3 separate regions of the Homo sapiens genome follow, and regions 1 and 2 are each linked to region 3. Evidence: fine-mapped expression QTL. A gene starts in region 3. Each other region holds a variant in brackets. All regions are shown on one strand. Distances are from middle to middle. Region 1 overlaps ITSN2 (intersectin 2). Region 2 overlaps FAM228A (family with sequence similarity 228 member A). Region 3 holds the start of ITSN2 (intersectin 2).

Evidence for each region. PIP is the estimated chance that this variant, and not a neighbour inherited with it, causes the effect. A credible set is the group of variants that fine-mapping cannot tell apart.
Region 1: its variant is the best candidate, but not a certain one, in a credible set for the expression of ITSN2 in stomach (GTEx, PIP 0.58).
Region 2: its variant is the best candidate, but not a certain one, in a credible set for the expression of ITSN2 in whole blood (TOPMed, PIP 0.79).

Annotation. Positions count from the first base shown.
Region 1 is chr2:24,234,336-24,242,522 of GRCh38, forward strand. The region is part of intron 29 of ITSN2 (intersectin 2); the gene reads right to left. Among named protein-coding and RNA genes, the nearest start is that of FAM228A, 63 kb to the left of the region's middle. The variant C/T (reference allele first, on the strand shown) is at 3,628.
Region 2 is chr2:24,191,085-24,199,252 of GRCh38, forward strand. It overlaps FAM228A (family with sequence similarity 228 member A), which reads left to right. Exons shown (of 6, transcript NM_001040710.3): 6 at 1-614. Among named protein-coding and RNA genes, the nearest start is that of FAM228A, 20 kb to the left of the region's middle. The variant A/AT (reference allele first, on the strand shown) is at 3,410.
Region 3 is chr2:24,357,532-24,365,718 of GRCh38, forward strand. ITSN2 (intersectin 2) reads right to left here and starts at 3,005. Exons shown (of 40, transcript NM_006277.3): 1 at 2,773-3,005. RefSeq lists silencers at 2,419-2,818, 2,829-2,878, 2,889-3,188 and an enhancer at 3,289-3,438.

The DNA of each region.
Region 1 (8,187 bases), 120 kb before region 3:
GCAAAAATCAACTCAAAATGCATCACAAACCTAAATCTGAAACACAAAACTATAAAGCTCCCAGAAAATAGTGTAAGCGAAAATCTAGATAACCTTGGGTTTAGTGATGACTCTTTAGATATGATACCAAAGACACAATCCATGAAAGAAAGAGTTGATAAGCTGGACTTCATTAAATGTAAACACTTTCATTCTGCAAAAGATGTGGTCAAGAGAATGAGAAGACAAGGCACAGACTGAAAAAAAATTTGCAAAAGACGTATCTGATAAAGAACTATTTTTCAAAATATGGAAAGGACTCTTTTAACAGTTCAACAATAAGAAAACAAATAAAAAAATGGGCCAAAGACCTTAACAGATGCCTCATGGAAAAAGATATGCAGATGGCAAATAAGCATATAAAAAGATGCTTTGCATCATACGTTGTTGGGAAAATGCAAATTAAAACAAAAATGAGATACCACTACACACCTGTTAGAATGGCCAGAATCTGTAACACTGACACCACCAAATGCTGGCAAGGATGTGGAACAACAGGAACTTTCATTCATTGCTGGAGGGAATGCAAAATGGTACAGCCACTTTGGAAGACAGTTTGCCATTTACAAACTAAACATACTCTTAAACCATATGATCCAGCAGCAATCACACACCTTGGTATTGATTCAAAGGAAATGAAAACTTATGTCCACAAAAAAGCCTGCACACAGATATTTGTAACAGCTTCATTCAGAATTGCCAAAACTTGGAAGGAATCACAATATCTTTCAGTGAGTGGATAACTGTGGTATACCCAGACAACGGAATATTATTTAGCACTAAAACGAAAGGATCAAGCCATGAAAAGATATGGAGGAAACTTACATGCCTATTACTAAGTAAAAGAAGCCAATCTGAAAAGGCTATGTACTGTGTGATTCCAATCATATGATATTCTGGGAAGGGCAAAACTATGGAGACAGTAAAAAGATCAGTGGTTGCCAGGGGATGGGAGGGAGGGAGAGCTGAACAGGTAGAGCACAGAAGATTTTTAGGGTAGTGAAAATACTCTGTATGATACTGTGATGGTAGCTGTATGTCATTACCCATTTGTACAATCCCACAGAATGCACAGCACCAAGACTGAACCCTAATGTAAACTACAGACTTTGATAATGACATGATGTAGGTGCATCAATTGTAACAAATGTACTGCTCTGGTGGGGGTTGTTGTTAATGGGGGAGGCTATGCCTGTGTCGGGGCAAGGGACATATGGGATATCTCTGTGTCTTCCTCTCAATTTTGCTGTGAACCTAAAACTACTCTAAAAAATGAAGTCTTTTAAAAAAGTGATTATGAAGACAAATAATTTTAAAACGGGCAAAGGATCTGAATAGACATATCTCCAAAGGAGGTATACAAATGGCCAACAAGCACATGAAAAGATGCCCAATATCATTAGTCATCAGGGAAATGCAAATCAAAACCACAGTGAGATGTCACTTTATGTCCACTGGATGGCTATAATAAAAGTCAGATAATAACAAGTGCCGGTGAGGATGTGGAGTAACAGAAAGCCCTGTACACTGCTGGCGGAAATAGAAAATGGTGCAGCCAGTGAGGCAGGTCCTCAACAAATTAAACATAGATTTGCCATTTGACCTGGGAATTCTACTCCTAGATATATATCCAAAAGAAACATGGACATATGTTCACACAAAAACTTGTAGACAAATGTTCACAGCAGTATTATTCACAATAGCCAAATGGTTGAAACAACCCAAATGTCCACTAAATAATGAATGAACAAAACGTGGCATATCCACACAATGGGATGTTAATTTGGCCATAAAAAGGAATGATGTACAGCTACATGCTACTACATGGATGAACCTTGAAAACATTATGCTAAGTGAAATAAGCCAATCACAAAATGCTACACATTTTATGATTCCATACATATGAAATGTTCAGAATAGACAAACATGGAGACAAAAGATTAGTGCCTGCTCAGGGCTGAAGGCTGGAGGGGGGCTTAGGGAAATGGGGGTGATAGCTAAATTGTACAGAGATTCATTTTGAGGTGATAAAAATGTCTTATAAGTGACTGTGGAAATGGTTGGACAACTTTGTTAATACACTAAAAACCACCAATTGCATGGCAAGTGAATTGTATCTCAATGAAGCTGTTACCAAAAAAAGTGATTACATTCAGCTTTATCCTTCTGGATACTATTGTCATAGAGTCTTGTCCTTGTTTATTATGTTCAGTCTTTGACTCCTTGACTCTTCTCTGTGTGTCCTTTTTACATAGAGAAAAGCCTGTGCAATCTCTGATTTTTCCTGTGTTTTTTTTTCTTTTTTTTTTTTTGGACATAGGGTCTCATTCTGTCACTCAGGCTGGAGTGCAGTGGTGTGATCTCAGCTCACTGCAGCCTCGATCTCCCAGGCTCAATTGAACTGCCTGCCTCAGCCTCCTGAGTAGCTAGGACTACAGGCGTGCAGCAGCACCACTCCCAGCTATCTATCTATCTATCTATCTTTTATTTTTTATTTTTTTTTGTAGAGACAGGTTTCACCAAGTTGCTCAGGCTGGCCTCAAACTCCTAGGCTCAGGTAATCACCCACCTTGGCCTCTCAAAAGTGCTGGGATTACAGGCATGAGCCACCATCCTGTTTTTGTTTCACTGGTATGAGTAACAGTTGTAGTGCCGAAGTTCATTATTAGGAGATGGTGGCAATATCAGCACACTAGTGTAGAGGCTAACAGCATGGACTTGGGAGCCAGACCATGGACCACCTCTACCGCTTACTAGCAGGTTCCACTTGGACAAATTATCTAATCTGTTTTAATTTCTGTATCTCAAAAAAGAAAACAATGAAGAGGTAATACATTCAAGGACCTTAGAAAAGTATCTAAACTAAGAAGTCCTCAAAAAAGAGCACTTTTCCTCTTTTATTTTTACTGGTGTGAGAGATGGTTGCAGAGCCAAAATTTCATTATTTTTTAAAAATCATGAAAATAGCAAAATAATCTCTTTCTCATATAACCTGTTTCCCATCTTTGTGAGTTCCTTTCACTATCCAACCCTTAACTGCTGATCTTCTAGGAGGTCTGATCTTCTTCCCAAGTAATCTCATCTACTTTCACTGGTTCAACAACTACCAATATGTATGTCATTCCACCAGGTGGTGTACATCTGATGTTGTCTATCTTATCTGACCACCTGCTTGACAACTCTATGTGGACATCCCATAGGTGCTCCAAACTCCTCTTCTTCCCCCAACTCTAATTCTTCACTGCAGTTGGTGGCACCATTATCCCATCCTGTCCCTCAAGACACAAATCTGGAAATAACTGACTTTTCCACCGACACTCATATTCCATCTATCTCCAGTTCCTGCCAATTTTCCCTCAGAACTCCGTTTCATCATTTTTTGCTCCACCTTGGGTGCATATCAGAATCATATGGGAGGCTTTGAAAGATCCCCACGATCAGGCCGAACTTCAATCCATTTAAATTAGGACCCTGGAAACTATAGATTTTTCAAGTTTCCCAAGTGATTCCAACATACAGCTGAGCTAGAGAATTTCTGACTTAGCCCTTGGCCTGCCTCTCAAGCCTCAACTTTTATAGTTCCTGGCT[C/T]TGTATTTCCATTCTGACGATACTGAAATGCTTATAATTACACTTCCCCACCATGCCATTTCTTGTCTTTATCATACACTCCACCATCCTACCCACCAAATCTGGCTTATTGCTACTTATCTTATGGACCTGGCAGTTGCTTCCTCCAGCAAGTCTCTCGTTCACCAATCTATGGCTGAATTTGGTATTCCTTCTCTGTAGTCCTTAAGTGCCTGGCAAATATCTATCACTGTGCTGAATATGCTGTTTTATAATTATCTGCATATGGGCCTAATCCCCTCAAAGAACTATGTACCACCTAAGACAATGGCCACTTGACACTCAGTTTTGTATCCCCAGCACCTGCTTAGCCTTATGTAAACACTTCATACATGTTAGTTGAATAAGTTTCCGGAGATGAGGAAAGGCTTTTTGGAAAGAGGTTGTTTGTGCTAGATGTTGACAGATGGACTGGATTTAGATCCATATCTTTCTTTCCACCCAAGGGCTTATACGACCACCAACATGATTAACTTTAACACTGCTTAACTTTGATACCTCCAAGCATTCACTGCTGTTTCTTTTACATAAACTCTTATTTTGTACTAAAAGTCTTACTCTACATTTGCAATGAGTATTAATTTGTAAGTTCCATCCAATCTTTTTAGAAAAAAGTTGCAGTAAAACTTATAAAAACACAAGTCTATTACCCTAGATTATGTTTTCCTTACTTTTGTGAGCAACAATGTATTAAAATCAAACTTTATTTCACTTTTGAGATACATATGATTATCTCCAATCAAATTATCTTCATCTTGACCACTTATACATTTATTTTGCCCCCTATGATATAAAACAATTTGCTGGCCTGTTCTCATGAGACTACATTAAGGAAAAAGAGACATTCCAAAGACATTTAATCATGACTAAATAAAAACAATTAAAAGTAAGTTTTAAAGAATGTTTCAAAAGAAATACACAATACAACTAATATAGTTTGTGTTCTTTTAATAAACACACTTGCATAGTTATATTACAATTTTGTAAAAATAAAAACAGATTATCTCATGCCAAGCGTGCCCAGCATTTGCACAATCTCAATACCTTTAATACTATAATTTTCAAGACACACAAAATAAAATTTTAAGGCAAAAACAGCACTTTGCAACAATTTAATAATTTATTACATTACAGTAGCATCACAGCAGCATTCAATAATGCCACTTTAGGCAAAAGTCTTTCAGTATTTCCATTATAGATTCTGTTTACAAGAATTCATAAACTGGTAAAAGTCATTCTAAGAAAACCTGGCAAATAAAGCTTTGGACTGGAATTGGTATTTCTTTCTCTACTTTTCTTTCCCCCAGTTTCTTTCTTTTAAACTACAGTATTTATATTTTAAAATGTTTTATTTCAAAACATTTAAATATCAGTTACATTTTTAATAGTTATATTATTTTAAAATGACTCTTTAAGATAAAGTTTTAGAGAAACTATATTATGGATAGGGCTGATTTACATTCTCAAATTTTCTAAAAATCAGCTTTGGTTTTAGAACTGATTTTTTTCATTTCTGGAAAACCTAAAAGGTTTAATCAAATAATTTAAAAGTGATTATTATACATTGCAATTGCAATCTTTAAACAGGTATTTTGATTCTTTACCTCCTACAGAAATTCAAATTTATTCAGTTGAACTCACATTTTAAAATTCTATGTTTCTGATGAACTCTAACCTTCTAATGTTGCCTTCTAAGCAAATTGAAAGCTGACTTATACTGAATGAGGAAGAGAACAAATACTTGGCTGAATGAGGTATTGCAAAAGACAGCATGCACTTTTAAGAAAGACTTAAGTTATTATGTCATATGATTTCCATTCTTTTTATCTTTTTCTTAAATACATGACAAAATACCTACACAAAGAGTGGTATTTCAGTTAATATAGTAAATTTATTTTCCAGACTGACATTCAGCTTAAATACGCCAGTATATGATTTAATCCATAGGTACCTGATGAACATATTATTTTCAGGTTGGTTACAGATGCTAAACGCTGTCTGAAGGTCATTCCCAGTAATTTATATTTATCAGTGTAAAAGTGAAGTGATTTGAACTATAAAAATACGTTTGAAATAATTCATCAATGTATTAGATAAACTCAGTTTCAGAATTATAAAGAAAAAACCTTAGACCAAATAATGTGGCTGATTAACAGTGGTATGATTTCTACCCCGAGGGTTTAAAAATGGATTTAAAGTAACTGTCTTTGAACTCAAAAGAATGCAAAAGCAGCAAGTTCAGAAAATAAAAGGCAAGAACAGGTAATTAATACAATTTGGGAGAGTCAGTTGAATTCACAAGGACCCAGTCTTTGCACTCTTTCAGTGAATGCAGGCAAATCTGTTATTCTATCTGTAAAATGAAATTATTGCTTTCCTATTAATGTCATATTTATAAAAGTATCATGAGGATGCCAAATGCTAAAAATAGAGGTGGTCTAGTAACTAGAAATTGCCACCCTAGGGAGCACACATACTTATCTCCCTACATCCTAATAATGTGATGTATTTTGGAACACAGACATTATAACTTTATGAAGTTTTAACTGTTGATTCTTTCCCAAGCATCATAAAGTTATGATTTAGGCAATGTATGACTGAAATAATTCATTCATAATGTATAGGCACATTAACATAAATATTGCACAAAATATGCCTCTAACTGAAACTGAGAGGTACAAAAACATATTTCACTCTTTGTAAATAACTTTGTGAGGAAATATGACTCTGTGATTGTATATACACTTTTCCTGATACTTTGACATTCACAAACAGTAGATTGCACTGCAGTTTGTAAACATTTTAAGTTGCATAAAATTCTCCTTGATTTTCAAATATAGTATAATACTGTCTACTAAAACTCCTTTTTGTATCAACTAAGTACTCTCACATATATTAGTTTATAATAATGTTTGTTATTATTTTTTAAAGTGTTTTCCATTCCAGGAAAAGAAGTAAATTCTTATGTCAAAGTAGCCAATATGGTTGAAGAACAGGTATTAGAGAAGTCTGATGGTAAAATCAATCTTAGAGCCTCAAAGAAGCTCCATGAACACAGAGGAATGCCAGGTGTTACACAGCTTTCCTTCACTCTAATTCATTCTTGACTAGAGCCCACATGTCTGTTTTGGGGACATTTAAACTCTTAAAGGATTTCTTATGATATTTACTAAATACATTAAGAAGAATGTCAACCAGTGCCCCTTTGTATACTGGGACATGTAGTCACCTGATTAAAACAGGTAACAATGAACTCTGACTTTAAAATGGATTAAGATATAAATGCTCTAAGCTAGGAAAGGTTTTTCCCATCTCACAGTCAATGATGGGAGCCTTTCATTCCTCAAAAATAATCCCTTTATAGGTCATCGAAAAAGAATACACACGCTGCAGCACATGATGCAGTACCTTCATTAGCCCAGAGCACATAAAGATCCTAAGCGAACTACCATAGGACAGTGCTCATTCTTGGGACTGGAACAAATGAAACACTGCACATACCTGCCAGAGCAGGCCACTTTCCTCTTCTCTGAGATTTAAAAAGCTCCCCCAAAATGTTGTTATTCCCATCCCAAATACACAGAAAACAGGGCATGGCTGTTTCCAGTTCTTGGCCTTTAAACAAATCTAAATGTCAGTACTCATAGTGGCATATTACAAAGTAATAAACAGTGCACACTTGAGGGCAAACCACATATTGAGCTAATTAAGAGCTCACTGTGATTAGGATTAGATCAAACATAATAGCAGAACATAAGCAAATTTTATCTGAATTCTGTAAATGAATACACATGTTGCAATAACATTAAAAAAGCATGGCAGCCTATTCCAAACCAGTAAGAATAGTTTGTGCAAATAGTGGGTCTTTGTGTGTTTGAACTCCCACCACATAAGGGCAAACTCAATATGCATGCTAATGACCTACAATTATCAAATTAAAAAAGAAGAAAAATGCTAAAGATGCCAGAGTGAACAGCAGGGAAAGCCACACAAAGACCCACTATCCTTTAACTTTTTACAAATAAATTTAAACTGTAAGTTAGAAACACAAAAAAATAATCACAAGTGGCTCTAACATTCAAACGAAGTAAACGAATTGTGTAGGAGATATTTGATCAGGGCTGCCTGCCCTGCCTCCACGCTAGAGTGAAACTTGGATAGTGGGTCTCTGGGGTGCTTTCACAACTGGAAGACAACATTGGGTCCTAAAAAAAGAAAATGAGGAATAAAATGAACATAATGCAAATTAGGTGGGTGAGATAAAATTTGACTAGTAACAACATGCAACATCAACTAAACAAATTTGAACTGTTAAAATTCTCTATCTTAAAAAAAGTTCTAATTATGTAACAAAATGAAAAATAATACTTAAAAGGGCCAAAGAAACACAAATGGTAATCTATAATTTAACTAGCTTTCATTGACTATTACAAGAACTACAAACAGGTGATTCATCTATAAAAAGCTGGGTAGGTACAACAAGGATCTCGTATCTATTCCTGACTTTAAGGATTAAGCATT
Region 2 (8,168 bases), 170 kb before region 3:
TTTTTATATGTAGGAATTTTCTGAGTATGGATTTCTTATCCAGAGCTCATGGTTCATTTGACACAGTTTTCAGCTCCTGGTCTATTTCCCCTTCCATTCTCTCCGCCACGCCCTGTGCCCTGAGGCCTGAGGCGCAGGACCCTCCCAGGGAAGGCCTAGGGGGCTTGGTGGGCCACCGCTCAGCTCAGGACCTGACAGCGTCACTCCCACCCTCACCACCACACACACAGGATGGGGGACTGCTGCTGCTTTCCAGCCTGTGAGCCTGGATAGGTATTTTGTGACCCAGCTCCTGCTCAGTCCCATCGCTGTCCCCGGTCTCTCCAGGGAGTAAGGGATTCTCCGTCTGTGGTAAGTTACCTGTGACTCTTCAGCAGTTTCCTCTGAGCATAATTATATCTGAGAGCACAGGGAGCTCCTCATTCCATGTATTTTTCAAATATTCAAGATGTACAACGTGATGATTTGCTATAGGTATTCATTGTGAAATGTTTGCCACAGTCAAGCTTGTTGACATACCCACCAGCTCACATTTACTGTTTTCGTGTGTGTGGTGAGAATACTCACAATCTACTCTCTGAGCAAACTGCAAATATATGTTATTAGTAACTGTAGTATCTGTGTTGTCCATTAGGCCTCTAGAACCTACTGTTACTCATGGAGGGTCTTCACTATGAGTTGTTCAGGTCCTTGGCATTTTGAACAAAGAATTGACCAAAACACACAGAGTAGCAGAGGAATGAAACGCGGGAGCGAAGCAGCGAAAGCAGAGATTTATTCAAGACAGAAAGCTCTGCAGGGTGGGAGCAGACCCAGCAAGGGCTCAAGGGTGTTAAGTTCCCTGTTTGAGGTTCTTATCTGCTACCCCTTATCTGGATGAAGGATTTGGTCCCTGGCTAATTAAAGGCTGAGGTGAATTGGCGCTCTACGCAGATGAAGGGATGGTCCCTGTGTTGGCTGCAGCTAATCCAGGGCACTCTCCCTTTCCATCTAAGACGTTATAGGGAGAGTAGCCTTTGATCTTTTGCTGCTTGGCTTGGGGAGATGGGGTTTTCTGTTTGGTTCCGCTTTCAGAAGTGTGTGTTAATTGGCCTCAGGTTCCCTGCCCCCAGACCCAGGTGTTTTCCTTTTGACCCAGCTTTGGGAAGGCAGCTCGAATTGGCCTTGGATTTCCTGCGCCCAGACCTTGCTGTTTTCTCAGACCTTGCTGTTGTCCCTGTCTCCAGACCCTGTTCTCCTGCCTCAGTACTTACCACAGAAAGTTTGTACCCTTTGACCAACACCTGTCACCTCACTGCCCCCACGCCCTGACTCTGGTATCCACCCTTCTACTCTGGATGGGTTTGACATCTTTAGATACCACATATTGTTACAGGAAAGGGGTCCTGATCCAGACCTCAAGAGAGGTTTGTTGGATCTCAAGCAAGAAAGAATTCACGGCCAGTCCACAGTGCAAAGTGAAAGCAAGTTTATTGAGAAAGTAAAGGAATAAAAGAACGACGACTCCATAGAGCAGCCCTGAGGGCTGCTGGTTGCCCATTTTGTGGTTATTTCTTGATGATATGCTAAATAAGGGGTGGATTATTCTTGCCTCCCCTTTTAGACCATATAGGATAACTTTCTGACCTTGCCATGGCATCTATAAACTGTCATGGCGCTGGTGGGAGTGTAGCAGTGAGGGTGACGAGAGGTCATTGTCGTCGCCATCTTGGTTTTGGTGGGTTTTGGCTGGCTCTTTTTTATTAGCCTGTTTTATCAGCAAGGTCTTTATGACCTGTATTTTGTGCTGACCTCCTATCTCATCCTGTGAGTTAGAATGCCTCACCGTCTGGGAATGCAACCCAGTAGGCTTTAGCCTTATTTTACCCAGCTCCTATTTAAGATGGAGTTGCCCTGGTTCACACACCTCTGACAATATGAGATCAGGCAGTATTTGTCTTTCTGTGCCTGGCTTCTTTCACTTACCATAACATCCTCCACATTCACCTATGTTGTTGCAAATGACAGGACTTCCTTCTCTTCTCAGGCGGGTTATTGGTCCATGGTATGTGTACCATATGCATTTTCTTTACCAGTTCATGTCAGCAGACACTTAGGTTGTTCCCATTTCTTGGCTATTGTGAATAATGCTGCAGTGAACACGGGAGTGTAGATATCCCTTCAAGATGGTGATTTTATTTCCTTTGAATATATGTATATACACCTGGAAGTGGGATTGCTGAATTGTATGGTCATTCTATTTTTAGTTTTTTTTGGAAACCTCCATGCTGTTTTCCGTAATGGCTGTAGTGATCTACATTCCACCAACAGTGTACAAGGGTACTGTTATTTTTTTTTTTAATTTTATTATTATTATACTTTAAGTTTTAGGGTACATGTGCACAATGTGCAGGTTTGTTACATATGTATACATGTGCCATGTTGGTGTGCTGTACCCATTAACTCGTCATTTAGCATTAGGTATATCTGCTAATGCTATCCCTCCCCCGCTCCCCCAACCCCACAACAGTCTCCGGAGTGTGATGTTCCCCTTCCTGTGTCCATGTGTTCTCACTGTTCAATTCCCACCTATGAGTGAGAACATGCAGCGTTTGGTTTTTTGTCCTTGCGATAGTTTGCTGAGAATGATGGTTTCCAGTTTCATCCATGTCCCTACAAAGGACATGAACTCATCATTTTTTATGGCTGCATAGTATTCCATGGTGTATATGTGCCACATTTTCTTAATCCAGTCTATCGTTGTTGGACATTTAGGTTGGTTCCAAGTCTTTGCTATTGTGAATAGTGCTGCTATAAACATATGTGTGCATGTGTCTTTATAGCAGCATGATTTATAATCCTTTGGGTATATACCCAGTAATGGGATGGCTGGGTCAAATGGTATTTCTAGTTCTAGATCCCTGAGGAATCACCACACTGACTTCCACAATGGTTGAACTAGTTTACAGTCCCACCAACAGTGTAAAAGTGTTCCTATTTCTCCACATCCTCTCCAGCACCTGTTGTTTCCTGACTTTTTAATGATCGCCATTCTAACTGGTGTGAGATGGTATCTCATTGTGGTTTTGATTTGCATTTCTCTGATGGCCAGTGATGATGAGCATTTTTTCATGTGATTTTTGGCTGCATAAATGTCTTCTTTTGAGAAGTGTCTGTTCATGTCGTTCACCCACTTTTTGATGGGGTTGTTTGTTTTTTTCTTGTAAATTTGTTTGAGTTCATTGTAGATTCTGGATATTAGCCCTTTGTCAGATGAGTAGGTTGCAAAAATTTTCTCGCATTCTGTAGGTTGCCTGTTCACTCTGATGGTACTTTCTTTTGCTGTGCAGAAGCTCTTTAGTTTAATTAGATCCCATTTGTCAATTTTGGCTTTTGTTGCCATTGCTTTTGGTAATTGAAGTCCTTGCCC[A/AT]TGCCTATGTCCTGAATGGTAATGCCTAGGTTTTCTTCTAGGATTTTTATGGTTTTAGGTCTAACATGTAAGTCTTTAATCCATCTTGAATTAATTTTTGTATGAGGTGTAAGGAAGGGATCCAGTTTCAGCTTTCTACATATGGCTAGCCAGTTTTCCCAGCACCATTTATTAAATAGGGAATCCTTTCCCCATTGCTTGTTTTTCTCAGGTTTGTCAAAGATCAGATGGTTGTAGATATGCGGCATTATTTCTGAGGGCTCTTTTCTGTTCCATTGATCTATATCTCTGTTTTGGTACCAGTACCATGCTGTTTTGGTTACTGTAGCCTTGTAGTATAGTTTGAAGTCAGGTAGTGTGATGCCTCCAGCTTTGTTCTTTTGGCTTAGGATTGACTTGGTGATGTGGGCTCTTTTTTGGTTCCATATGAACTTTAAAGTAGTTTTTTCCAATCTGTGAAGAAAGTCATTGGTAGCTTGATGGGGATGGCATTGAATCTATAAATTACCTTGGGCAGTATGGCCATTTTCACGATATTGATTCTTCCTACCCATGAGCATGGAATGTTCTTCCATTTGTTTGTATCTGTTCATTGAGCAGTGGTTTGTAGTTCTCCTTGAAGAGGTCCTTCACATCCCTTGTAAGTTGGATTCCTAGGTATTTTATTCTCTTTGAAGCAATTGTGAATGGGAGTTCACTCATGATTTGGCTCTCTGTTTGTCTGTTATTGGTGTATAAGAATGCTTGTGATTTTTGTACATTGATTTTGTATCCTGAGACTTTGCTGAAGTTCCTTATCAGTTTAAGGAGGTTTTGGGCTGAGACAATGGGGTTTTCTAGAGGTACAATCATGTCATCTGCAAACAGGGACAATTTGACTTCCTCTTTTCCTAATTGAATACCCTTTATTTCCTTCTCCTGCCTCATTGCCCTGGCCAGAACTTCCAACACTATGTTGAATAGGAGTGGTGAGAGAGGGCATCCCTGTCTTGTACCAGTTTTCAAAGGGAATGCTTCCAGTTTTTGCCCATTCAGTATGATATTGGCTGTGAGTGTGTCATAGATAGCTCTTATTATTTTGAGATAGGTCCTATCAATACCTAATTTATTGAGAGTTTTTAGCATGAAGGTTGTTGAATTTTGTCAAAGGCCTTTTCTGCATGTATTGAGATAATCATGTGGTTTTTGTCTTTGGTTCTGTTTATATGCTGGATTACATTCATTGATTTGCATATGTTGAACCAGCCTTGCATCCCAGGGATGAAGCCCAGTTGATCATGGTGGATAAGCTTTTTGTTGTGCTGCTGGATTCAGTTTGCCAGTATTTTATTGAGGATTTTTGCATCAATGTTCATCAAGGATATTGGTCTAAAATTCTCTTTTTTGGTTGTGTCTCTGTCAGGCTTTGGTATCAGGATGATGCTGGCCTCATAAAATGAGTTAGGGAGGATTCTCTCTTTTTCTATTGATTGGAATAGTTTCAGAAGGAATGGTACCAGCTCCTCCTTGTACCTCTGGTAGAATTCGGCTGTGAATTCATCTGGACCTGGACTTTTTTTGGTTGGTAAGCAATTGATTATTGCCACAATTTCAGAGCCTGTTATTGGTCTATTCATAGATTCAACTTCTTCCTGGTTTAGTCTTGGGAGGGTGTATGTGTCCAGGAATTTATCCATTTCTTCTAGATTTTCTAGTTTATTTGCGTAGAGGTGTTTGTAGTATTCTCTGATGGTAGTTTGTATTTCTGTGGGATCGGTGGTGATACCCCCTTTATCATTTTTTATTGCGTCTATTTGATTCTTCTCTCTTTTCTTCTTTATTAGTCTTGCTAGCGGTCTATCAATTTTGTTGATCTTTTCAAAAAACCAGCTCCTGGATTCATTGATTTTTTTGAAGGGTTTTTTGTGTTTCTATTTCCTTCATTTCTGCTCTGATTTTAGTTATTTCTTGCCTTCTGCTAGCTTTTGAATGTGTTTGCTCTTGCTTTCCTAGTTCTTTTAATTGTGACGTTAGGGTGTCAATTTTGGATCTTTCCTGCTTTCTCTTGTGGGCATTTAGTGCTATAAATTTCCCTCTACACACTGCTTTGAATGTGTCCCAGAGATTCTGGTATGTTGTGTCTTTGTTTTTGTTGGTTTCAAAGAACATCTTTATTTCTGCCTTCATTTCGTTATATACCCAGTAGTCATTCAGGAGCAGGTTGTTCAGTTTCCATGTAGTTGAGCGGTTTTGAGTGAGTTTCTTAATCCTGAGTTCTAGTTTGATTGCACTGTGGTCTGAGAGACAGTTTGTTATAATTTCTGTTCTTTTACGTTTGCTGAGGAGTGTTTTACTTCCAAGTATGTGGTCAATTTTGGAATAGGTGTGGTGTGGTGCTGAAAAAAATGTATATTCTGTTGATTTGGGGTAGAGAGTTCTGTAGATGTCTGTTAGATCTGCTTGGTGCAGAGCTGAGTTCAATTCCTGGGTATCCTTGTTAACTTTCTGTCTCATTGATCTGTCTAATGTTGACAATGGGGTGTTAAAGTCTCCCATTGTTATTGTGTGGGAGTGTAAGTCTCTTTGTAGGTCACTAAGGACTTGCTTTATGAATCTAGGTGCTCCTGTATTGGGTGCGTATATATTTAGGATAGTTAGCTCTTCTTGTTGAATTGATCCCTTTACCATTATATAATGGCCTTCTTTGTCTCTTTTGATCTTTCTTGGTTGAAAGTCTGTTTTATCAGAGACTAGGATTGCAACCCCTGCCTTTTTTTGTTTTCCATTTGCTTGGTAGATCTTCCTCCATCCCTTTATTTTGAGCCTATGTGTGTCTCTGCATGTGAGATGGGTTTCCTGAATACAGCACACTGATGGGTCTTGACTCCTTATCCAATTTGTCAGTCTGTGTCTTTTAATTGGAGCATTTAGCCCATTTACATTTAAAGTTAATATTGTTATGTGTGAATTTGGTCCTGTCATTATGATGTTAGCTGGTGATTTTGCTCGTTAGTTGATGCAGTTTCTTCCTAGCCTTGATGGTCTTTACATTTTGGTATGTTTTTGCAGTGGCTGGTACCAGTTGTTCCTTTCCATGTTTGGTGCTTCCTTCAGGAGCTCTTTTAGGCCAGGCCTGGTTGGTGACAAAATCTGTCAGCATTTGCTTGTCTGTAAAGTATTTTATTTCTCCTTCACTTATGAAGCTTAGTTTGGCTGGATATGAAATTCCGGGTTGAAAATTCTTTTCTTTAAGAATGTTGAATATCGGCCCCCACTCTCTTCTGGCTGGTAGAGTTTCTGCCGAGAGATCAGCTGTTAGTCTGATGAGCTTCCCTTTGTGGGTAACCCGACTTTTCTCTCTGGCTGCCCTTAACATTTTTTCCTTCATTTCAACTTTGGTGAATCCGACAATTATGTGTCTTGGAGTTGCTCTTCTCGAGGACTATCTTTGTGGCATTCTCTGTATCTCCTGAATCTGAATGTTGGCCTGCCTTGCTAGATTGGGGAAGTTCTCCTGGATAATATCCTGCAGAGTGTTTTCCAACTTGGTGCCATTCTTCCCGTCACTTTCAGGTACACCAATCAGACGTAGATTTGGTCTTTTCACATAGTCCCATATTTCTTGGAGGCTTTGTTCGTTTCTTTTTATTCTTTTTTCTCTAAACTTCCCTTCTCACTTCATTTCATTCATTTCGTCTTCCATCACTGATACCCTTTCTTCCAGTTGATCGCATCGGCTCCTGAGGCTTCTGCATTCTTCACGTAGTTCTTGAGCCTTGGCTTTCAGCTCCATCAGCTCCTTTAAGGACTTCTCTGCATTGGATATTCTAGGTAGCCATTCGTCTAATTTTTTTTCAAAGTTTTTAACTTCTTTGCCATTGGTTTGAATTTCCTCCTGTAGCTCAGAGTAGTTTGATCGTCTGAAGCCTTCTTCTCTCAACTCGTCAAAGTCATTCTCCGTCCAGCTTTGTTCTGTTGCTGGTGAGGAACTGCGTTCCTTTGGAGGAGGAGAGGTGCTCTGCTTTTTAGAGTTTCCAGTTTTTCTGCTCTATTTTTTCCCCATCTTTGTGGTTTTTGTCTACTTTTGGTCTTTGATGATGGTGACGTACAGATGGGTTTTTGGTGTGGATGTCCTTTCTGTTTGTTAGTTTTCCTTCTAACAGACAAGCATCGTGTTATATATAAAGTTTCGGTGCCACAAAAGAAATACCACTCGAATATTAAGATTTTCTTTTTAATTCTCAGCAAGGCAAGGTACTTCTAATTATTGTTGTTGACTAACTAAAATTGGTAATGGCTATCTAAATTTACTGTCCCCATTGTACTCTTTGAGACGGAGTCTCACTCTGTCACCCAGGCTGGAGTGCAGTGACTGATCTCGGCTCACTGCAAGCTCTGCCTCCCAGGTTCACACCATTCTCCTGCCTCAGCCTCCCAAGTAGCTGGGACTACAGGTGCCTGCCACCACGCCCGGCTAATTTTTTTTATTTTTAGTAGAGGCGGGGTTTCACTGTGTTAGCCAGGATGGTCTCAATCTCCTGACCTCATGATCCGCCTGCCTTGGCCTCCCAAAGTGCTGGGATTACAGGTGTGAGCCATTGCACCCAGCCCCAAGGCAAGATACTTCTATGTAGAAGGGTGCGCCCTTACAGATGGAGCAATGGTGGGCGCACACTTGGACAAGGGAGGAGAAAGGGTTCTTATCCCTGACGCACGTGGCCCCTGCGGCTGTGTCATTCCCCTATTGGCCAGGGTTAGACCGCACAGGCTAAACTAATTC
Region 3 (8,187 bases):
CACGGTGCACGTATACCTATGTAACAAACCTGTACGTTCTGCACATATATCCTGTTTTTTTTGTAAGAAATAAAAAAAAATCGGCACACAAGAAAGTCTGCCTTTCTTCAAAAACAGTTTTTTCACAAATTTTTTCCATAAATAAAAAAGGTACTAAAAAAACTTGAATCCAAAAAAAGAAAAAGAAAATGCACCGTTAGATGGTAATAAATATATCACATTTTTGGTAATGTAACTCGTTTATTCTGAATCATTTCTGGAACTTGTTAATATAAATGTTTTACAAGTAAATACAATATGTAAAAATGCTACTTAATGGACTAATATGTACTTTCACTCATTCACTAAACACATATTTTTTACTGAATGCCCATATAACTTTTTTTTTCTTTTTTTTGTTTGAGACGGAGTCTCACTCTGTCGCCTAGGCTGGAGTGCAGTGGTGCGATCTCGGTTCACTGCAACCTCCGCCTCCCGGGTTCAACGATTCTCCTGCCTCAGCCTCCTGAGTACCTGGGACTACAGGCGCACGCCACCATGCCAGGCTAATTTTTTGTATTTTTTAGTAGAGACAGGATTTCACCTTATTGGTCAGTCTCAAACTCCTGACCTGGTGATCCGCCCTCCTCGGCCTCCCAAAGTGCTGGGATTACAGGCATGAGCCAGGGCACCCGGCACATAGATAACTCTTTTTTAAATGTATGAACCAAGATGACTCTACCAGATAAGGCACAGGTGCTGCAGTTAAAAGGATCTTGGTTTGAAACCTGGCTATTGTACTTACTAGCTCAGAGACCTAAAGTAGTCAAACTTCAGGTTAACATTTCACTTACCTTTTTGATGGGAAGATAATAATTACTCCTAGGGCCTTAGTGAGCTTTAAATGATTATGTAAAACACTTAGCATAGAGTCTAACATGCAGTTACGTGCTCGATAAATGACAACCATGGTAAACATATTTTATACTGAAGAAAGTATAGTTGAAGGAGACAGCCAATATGTGACCCTTTTGTCTTACTAAAGATGGAAATTTGTGAAACTCTACATTAAAACTAAAAATCCTAAGGTTACATGATTTTCTACTTTTTAAAAAAGATATACTAACTACATAAGGTTAAAGGATTTTTTAAAATAAGAAAGAAAAAAAGAAAAGCTTCTTGAAAGCTGCTGAGTTTGGGTGATGGGTACATGCTATTTTTGTGAAAATACAAATTTTTTAACACTATTAATCCAATCCCCAAAACATGCCTAACACACCTCCTCATATTCAGGAGAGATCAAGATTTTAGCCTTGAGATGTACCGAACAATGGTAACTCCCTGCTTAGTAATTCTGTACAGGTCAAGTTTTCTTGGACGAGTTTACCTTTCATTACAAAGGTGGGCACAGGGAATAGTTATCAATGCATGGAAGGGTGAAAAAATGCAAGCTTTTCAACTGCTTATTAATATTACATCAAAATAGCAGCAATGCACATTTTTTCCACGTTTTCAAAAACATAAAATACATCCACTTTATTTACTTTTGAAATTACAAGAGAGTCACAGGCACAGCCAAAAAAAGCTAAAGGAAAACACATCAGAGTTGTCAGTATCTTTAAATTTGGAAGGACGTCATTATTAATTCGCGTAAATGTTTTATGCGATGTTTCTAGGTAGCTTTTAGGTTTTATCACTGATTAACAATATAGCAAACCAGCACAGGGAGAGAGGCAATTTTTCGAAACGCTTAAGAAGCTTTAAACTACAAGAGCTATGCTACCTAAACTGAGCTCACTAACAACGTAAAATTTCAAGTCACACCTTGCCTATTTCTGAGTAAGCAAGCAAACACTAGTGAGACAAACTAGAAGCATGGAGCAAAGCAAGTCATTTCTATGCTAACCTTAATTCCTATCGTAAAGGGGTTGGCTCCATCAAAAAATATTCCTATTTCAGTATTAACACAAGTTTCAAATAAAGCACACTTGCCATTGGTAATTCTAGAGCGACAAGGCGCATAATTAATAAATCCAAACGGAGCATCTTTCTATAGAATACAAAGCCATCTGCAGTTTCAGCCTCGGTTTACCCACTCACTATGCATATGCAGACGTCTTTAAAAATAAATAAATAAATACACAAATAAACTTTATCTGGCCTGAGAGATTACATCTCTCGGTGCTTCCTGTATATTCTGGAAGTCAATAACGCTGAAGGTAAATTTAACATTTCCAACTCCGGAGGAACGCGAGCGGTAGACGCCAAGCATCCGCCCACTGTCCTCTCGTGACTCGGGCTACTTTGACGCACCGGGATGCGGCTCACCTGACATTCGGCACCAACCCTTGCCAGGAAGGAAAACCAACTCCGCGAAAATAAAATGGGTCCCCGAGGAGGCGTGCGGGTGCCCCCAGAGCTCTCTTCTGCTCACACCCCGAAAGCGAGGGGGCCACGCCACCCCCGACCCTCGCCGGCGTCCGCCACCTGCCAGACGAGGCCGCGGCCAGGGACCCGGGCTCGGCCGCAAGGAAGGGGCAGCCCAGCCCAGGCCCCCTCGGCGTCTGTCCCGGCCCGGCAGCAGAGGAAGGAACCCGGGGCCGGAGGTTTCCGCCCCGCACGGCCGAGCCCGCCAGGGGCCTAGCTCGGGGGCCGCCCGTACTCCCGAGGACCCGTCCCCATCGTGCGGAGCGCACAGCCGCCTCAGCCCGACCCGCAGAGCCTCCGGGCAGCGGGCGCGGCGCCCGCACCTGCCCCGCGCCTTGCTGCAGCCCCGCTAGCGGCTTCACCCACCTGGCGCCCTCGCCGCGCCTCCCGCTCGTCACAGCGCGACTCCGCGTCCCTCAGCACCGGCAGCCTGGGCGCGGGCAGGCGCGGGGAGACCCTGCTCTGCCGCCGTCGCCGCCACTGCAGCTGGCTTGGTCGTCAGGCCGCCGCCCGCGAACCTGTTGCGTAGCCTGTCACAGCCGCTCAGGGCTCCGCCGGCGCCGCCTCAGCCCCACAACAACATGGCGGCCGCGGCCTCCGCAGGAAGCCGGGGGGCGGGGAGGTAGGCGCCGGGCCGGGCAGCTGACGGCCCGCCCGCTGCCGGGCACCGACTCCCCACCCTCCGGAGCCCGAAACTGCCCGGGCGTGGCTCCTCGCCCCAGGAGTTCCGGGGCATTGAACCCTGAAGGTCTGCTCCGAGTCGGTCGGGTCCGAAGCGCTCCTCTCTGCCCTCGGGGAGGCCCCGAAGCCCCAGACCTGGCAGCCCTTCCTGGAGTTGCACAGACCCACCTGGCTCCTCCTCCCCGAGGTAACATGCTGAGCTTGGGTGGTGCTTTTCCTGCCACGGCAGACGCCGGGGTTTTGGAAAGTCCCAAGCAGTGCCTGCCACATCCCTGTTGCACCCACCACGGGGTTCTCCCTGGAACCTTCTCACTCGCCGAAGTTTTCTCCACTGATCTGGGGGAACGAATTCTCTGGGAATTGGGGGGTGGAAGGTGGGAAGGAGGTTGATCCCACCCTTGCCCATGGGTCTGTTACAGGCCTCTTGAACCCTTCTCAGGGACCTGGAGGACTTAACCATACCCTCGGTCATCCATTCACCATTCCTCGCCCTCCTCCATAACACACGCGGAGCGCCCACGAGGAGCACCCTCTACGCTAGTCACACTCCGCCGAGCAGTAGGAAGACTCTGTCCCCATAGAGCATAGCACGACGAAGCTAAACTTTCCTCCCCACCCCTCGCCAAGGGACAGGCGAAGCTCCTACTCAGAATTTGTCTCTTTTCTCCCCTCCCGGTTCCTGGTCTCCTCACAAAAGACCAGACTTCAACTCAAGCCGCCACCGTATCCCAAAACCCCAAAGGTTTGCCCTTGACAAGAAGCTTCTTCAAGGGGAAAGGCTTTCTTTTGATTGGGGTGAGGGAGGAGTTAGTGTTTCCTAATGAACGTAACCAAATGTCGGCCTGGCACAGTGGCTCACGCTTGTAACCCCGGCACTTTGGGAGGCCGAGGCAGGTGGATCATCTGAGGTCAGGAGTTGGAGACCAGCCTGGCCAACATGGTGAAACCCCGCCTCTTCTAACAATACAAAAATTAGCTGGGCGTGGTGGCGGGCGCCTGTAGTCCCAGCTACTCGGAAGGCTGAGGCAGGAGAATCGCTTGAACCTGGGAGGCGGAGGTTGCAGTGAGCAGAGATTGCACCACTGTACTCCAGCCTGGGCGACAAGAGCGAAACTCTGTCTCAAAAAAAAAAAAGTAACCAAATGTAAGACTCAAGATTTTTGGATATAAGACCCAAGATTTCTTTTTTTTTTTTTTTTTTTTTTTTTTTTTTTCCTGAGACAGACTCTCACTCCGTTGCCCAGGCTGGAGTGCAGTGGCGCAACTGTGAGATCTGTGCTCACTGCAACCTCCGCCTCCCAGGTTCAAGCAATTCTCCTGCCTCAGCCTTCCAAGTACCTGGGATTACAGGCACTTGCCACCACGCCCGGCTAATTTTTGTATTTTTAGTAGACACTGGTTTCACCATGTTGGCCAGGCTGGTCTCAAACTCCTGACCTCAGGTGATCCACCCGCCTCATCCTCCCAAAGTGCTGGGATTGGCGTGAGCCACCACGCCCGGCCAAGACCCAAGATTTATTTTGGCTTTTAGAAGCAGGGTGAGGGCTGGTCTGGGGTCCAAAACTCATATCCCTTGATTTGATCTGTGTAGATCAAATAACCCCTGGCATCCTTTCATTCCTTACCTGTTGAGGCAGGTGAAGGTGAGATGGCTCCAAACCCAGGCCTATCTGAACTGGCCAGCCAGCTTAGGAGGAATTTACCAAACATCGATGATGATAAACAGGCTTTTCCCGCTCTCACACTCAGTGTTTTTCCTAACTCTTCGATTAGAACCTGACCAAGACCTGACAGACAGGTCCTGAGCTTCAGTGACACAGAGAAGCCTGACTCTTTTATCAGTCTAGGAGGCCCCTCACTTGCTGGGGACCAGCCAATCTGTCCTTATCTGCAAACAAACCACCCAGGCCAAGGATAGCAATCTTGAGCACGTGGCCTCATTCCCATTGCACCCTTCACCAGTTAACTGATATGCTCTTTTGGAGCCCATATTTGAGAGTCAAAGCCCCAGAATCCTTCACAACATAGTGCTCCAGAGAGTTGGTCTGAGAGGTAAAACCTATTTTTTATTCCTGTTAGGCACATAGCTAGTCTTCATTTTTCTCCCATCCTTTGACCAATGTCATTTGTGTTTTCGGGTTCTAGACCTGGTGCAATTTACCCTGAGTCTCCTTTCCTTCTAAAGGAGGTGCCAAATCCTTGGCAGGACAAAAATGGAATTTGTAGAAAGAGATGCTTATAAAGGAATAAAAAAAAATTTAAAGCCCCCCTAAAATAAACCAAAAAACTAACAACCTCTGCTGGAAATCAGGGTCCTGAATGCATGCCTACAGTATCCCAAGTACTAAAACAACTGTATCCCAGAGTTCCCTTCAGAACTTTGAGGCCAGTTTGTCCATCCTGTCCTACTCTATCACAGCCCAAAATGCAAGCACCTCCAGTTATCTATCTTCTCTCTCACACATACCTCCCACCCTGTGTGATTCAGGGATAAATTTGGGCAATATTAAGCATTTGGTGGTTGGATATAAGGAATGAGAAGGAGTAAAGGGTTCTTGGGTTTTTGGGTAATGGTAGTTCTATTCAACAAGATAAAGAATGGAATACAGGAGGGAAGCACAGACCTTGGAAGTGGCTGAAGAAACATTTTCCTTGCTCCTCGACTGCATCCAGATCCTAGTTTTCCACTCACATGCAAAAGCCCCTTCTCCTATGAGGCTTATAACACTAGCTACACCCATCCTCTATCCTCATCCTTATCATTTACCATCTTCCAGGGCACTCAATATATTCCTCAAGAATTTCTGCACATGGAGCAGCCAGTACTCTCCGCCCAGGACCTTCATCATCCTTAGTGTCTTTCAGTGTTCATGATTCATTTAGATGATGCAGCCGCCATCCCAGTTCCTTGACTTCCTCTTCTCATAGGGCAGCCTTGGAAGTGTGTCTATACATTTCCTCCTTAGTATTCTCCAAATCCCAGCATCTTTTCTTTACTTCTGGCACCAGCTGGAAATCAAATACCTGGAGGAGCTAAGTCCTACCATGTTACATTTCTCTTCCTCTAGTTCTGCCACAGTCTAGGCAAGATTCTTAGACTTGTTCCTGGTGACCTAGCTTTTACCCTGGGAGCGTTTAGTCTCTATCTGTTTTCTTTTCCATGTATTATTGATCCTTCTCCTCAACCATATGTATCTTATGTTCTATCAATCTCCCCTTAAGTTAGTTTTCAAAGATTCCATCCTGTACCCCATTTCTACCATGTTTACCCCCAAAACAAACCTGCAGTGTAAGAAGAGTATAGAATAGGTAGAAGCAACAGTTCTAGAGTCCAGGCATCCCATAAGATAAATACCATTATCATATAGAGTAGAAAGACTGAGAACCTGGAGCTCATATTTCATGTTATAGTTTTACCTTCAAAACAATGCTGTAACTTTGGGGGTTTTTTATTTGTTTTTGTTTTGTTTTTTTTAGGATGGAGTTTCACTCTTGTTGCCTAGGCTGGAGTGCAATGGCGCGATCTCAGCTCTCTGCAACCTCCGCCTCCCAGGTTCAAGCGATTCTCCTGCCTCATCCTCCTGAGTAGCTGGGATTACAGGCTCCCACCACCAAGCCCAGCTAATTTTTTGTATTTTTAGTAGAGACAAGGTCTCACTATATTGGCCAGGCTGGTCTTGAACTCCTGACCTCAGGTGATCCACCCACCTCAGCCTCCCAAAGTGCTAGGATTACAGGCATGAGCCAAGTTTTAAATAAATAATTTATAAAGAAATTAATAGGTTACAGGCAACAAAAATAGTCTTGATTTATCCAGATATTTATTATTTTGGGCACTCTTCATTCTTTCCTGAGGATCCGAGTTTCCTATGATAATATTTCCCACCTGCCAAACAAACTAACCCTGAAAATGGATGGCACTGGAGGAGCAGAGGAAGGGAGAGGAAAGGGATTGAGCAGATGGCATCATTTCCCATTTTTCAACCCCCAACCCCAAGTTCCCATCCCTGCAGATGCTCTGCCCTGAGACTTGAAGCCTGGGGCACAGGCCTGGGTGGAGCCAATGCAGGCACAGATCTTGACATTCGTAGCAAATATTCAGATGGGAATTTTGAAGGCAGAAGTGGAGAAGAGTTCCACGTGAACAGCAGTAGGTATGAGTTATATATTTTTTAAATTAATAATTTTTAAAAGACCCTACCATGTTCTGGCCACTAGAAACAAGGACTTCGCAAGGAATGAGCACTGGTGAGGAGCAGTGGAGACTCAATTCACAAGAATGGTCAATGGGACAAATTTGGTCCTTGGATCTTTTCTTAGCTTCTTGACCTTACAGATCTCCTTCTGGAGTCCGGGGCAGAAGAAAAGCAGAGAAGTGGAAATAGGAGTGACTTCAGGGGAAAGAGGAGAGAAGGGAAATTCCCAGCCCTGGCATGGAAGGAAGGAGTGTTCTCATTATTGGGCCACTAATGTTGTGCATAACTTGAGACTCTGGCTTGAGGCCTGATGGTACCGGAAAGGCAGTACCAGGCAAACTGAAGGGGGAAGTTAGCCGAGACTTGGGCCTAGGCCAGCACTGCAGGGTGGAGTCAAAGGCCAGACTGGGCGAGGCCCTAAAGTCCCTGGACAGGACGTGTTCATTCATTACCAAAGCACCAGGGGCTTCCAGTCTGGCAGGTGTAGCTCAGCGAAAGGGAATCCAATCTGTGTTCAAGAGTCAGAAATGTTTCCTGTCTGGCAGATATGCCCAGCTGTCTGCTTATTTCATCGTTGCTGTCTGCAGCACAAACCTGGAGTGATACCAGTTCCCTTCTTATAATAACGTAACTAATATTAATGTAGCATTTTGCACTTGGCAGAGTACTTTTGTTATTTCATTTAATCCTTGTAACAATCCTGGGAATTAGGGTAAAGTGCTGTTTGGGATTGTCTCACTTTGGTTGGTATGAAGAAAGAGAGGTAAAATCAGGCTTTTGCCTTGTGTTTGGAGAATTTTCCTATGCCTAGTTGTGATTTTCTTTTCCTCATTTAAATAGAGAAACATAGGCCATGCTCTTCTGGGTTTAGATAGCAACAGTTTTTTAATTTAAAATATACAAT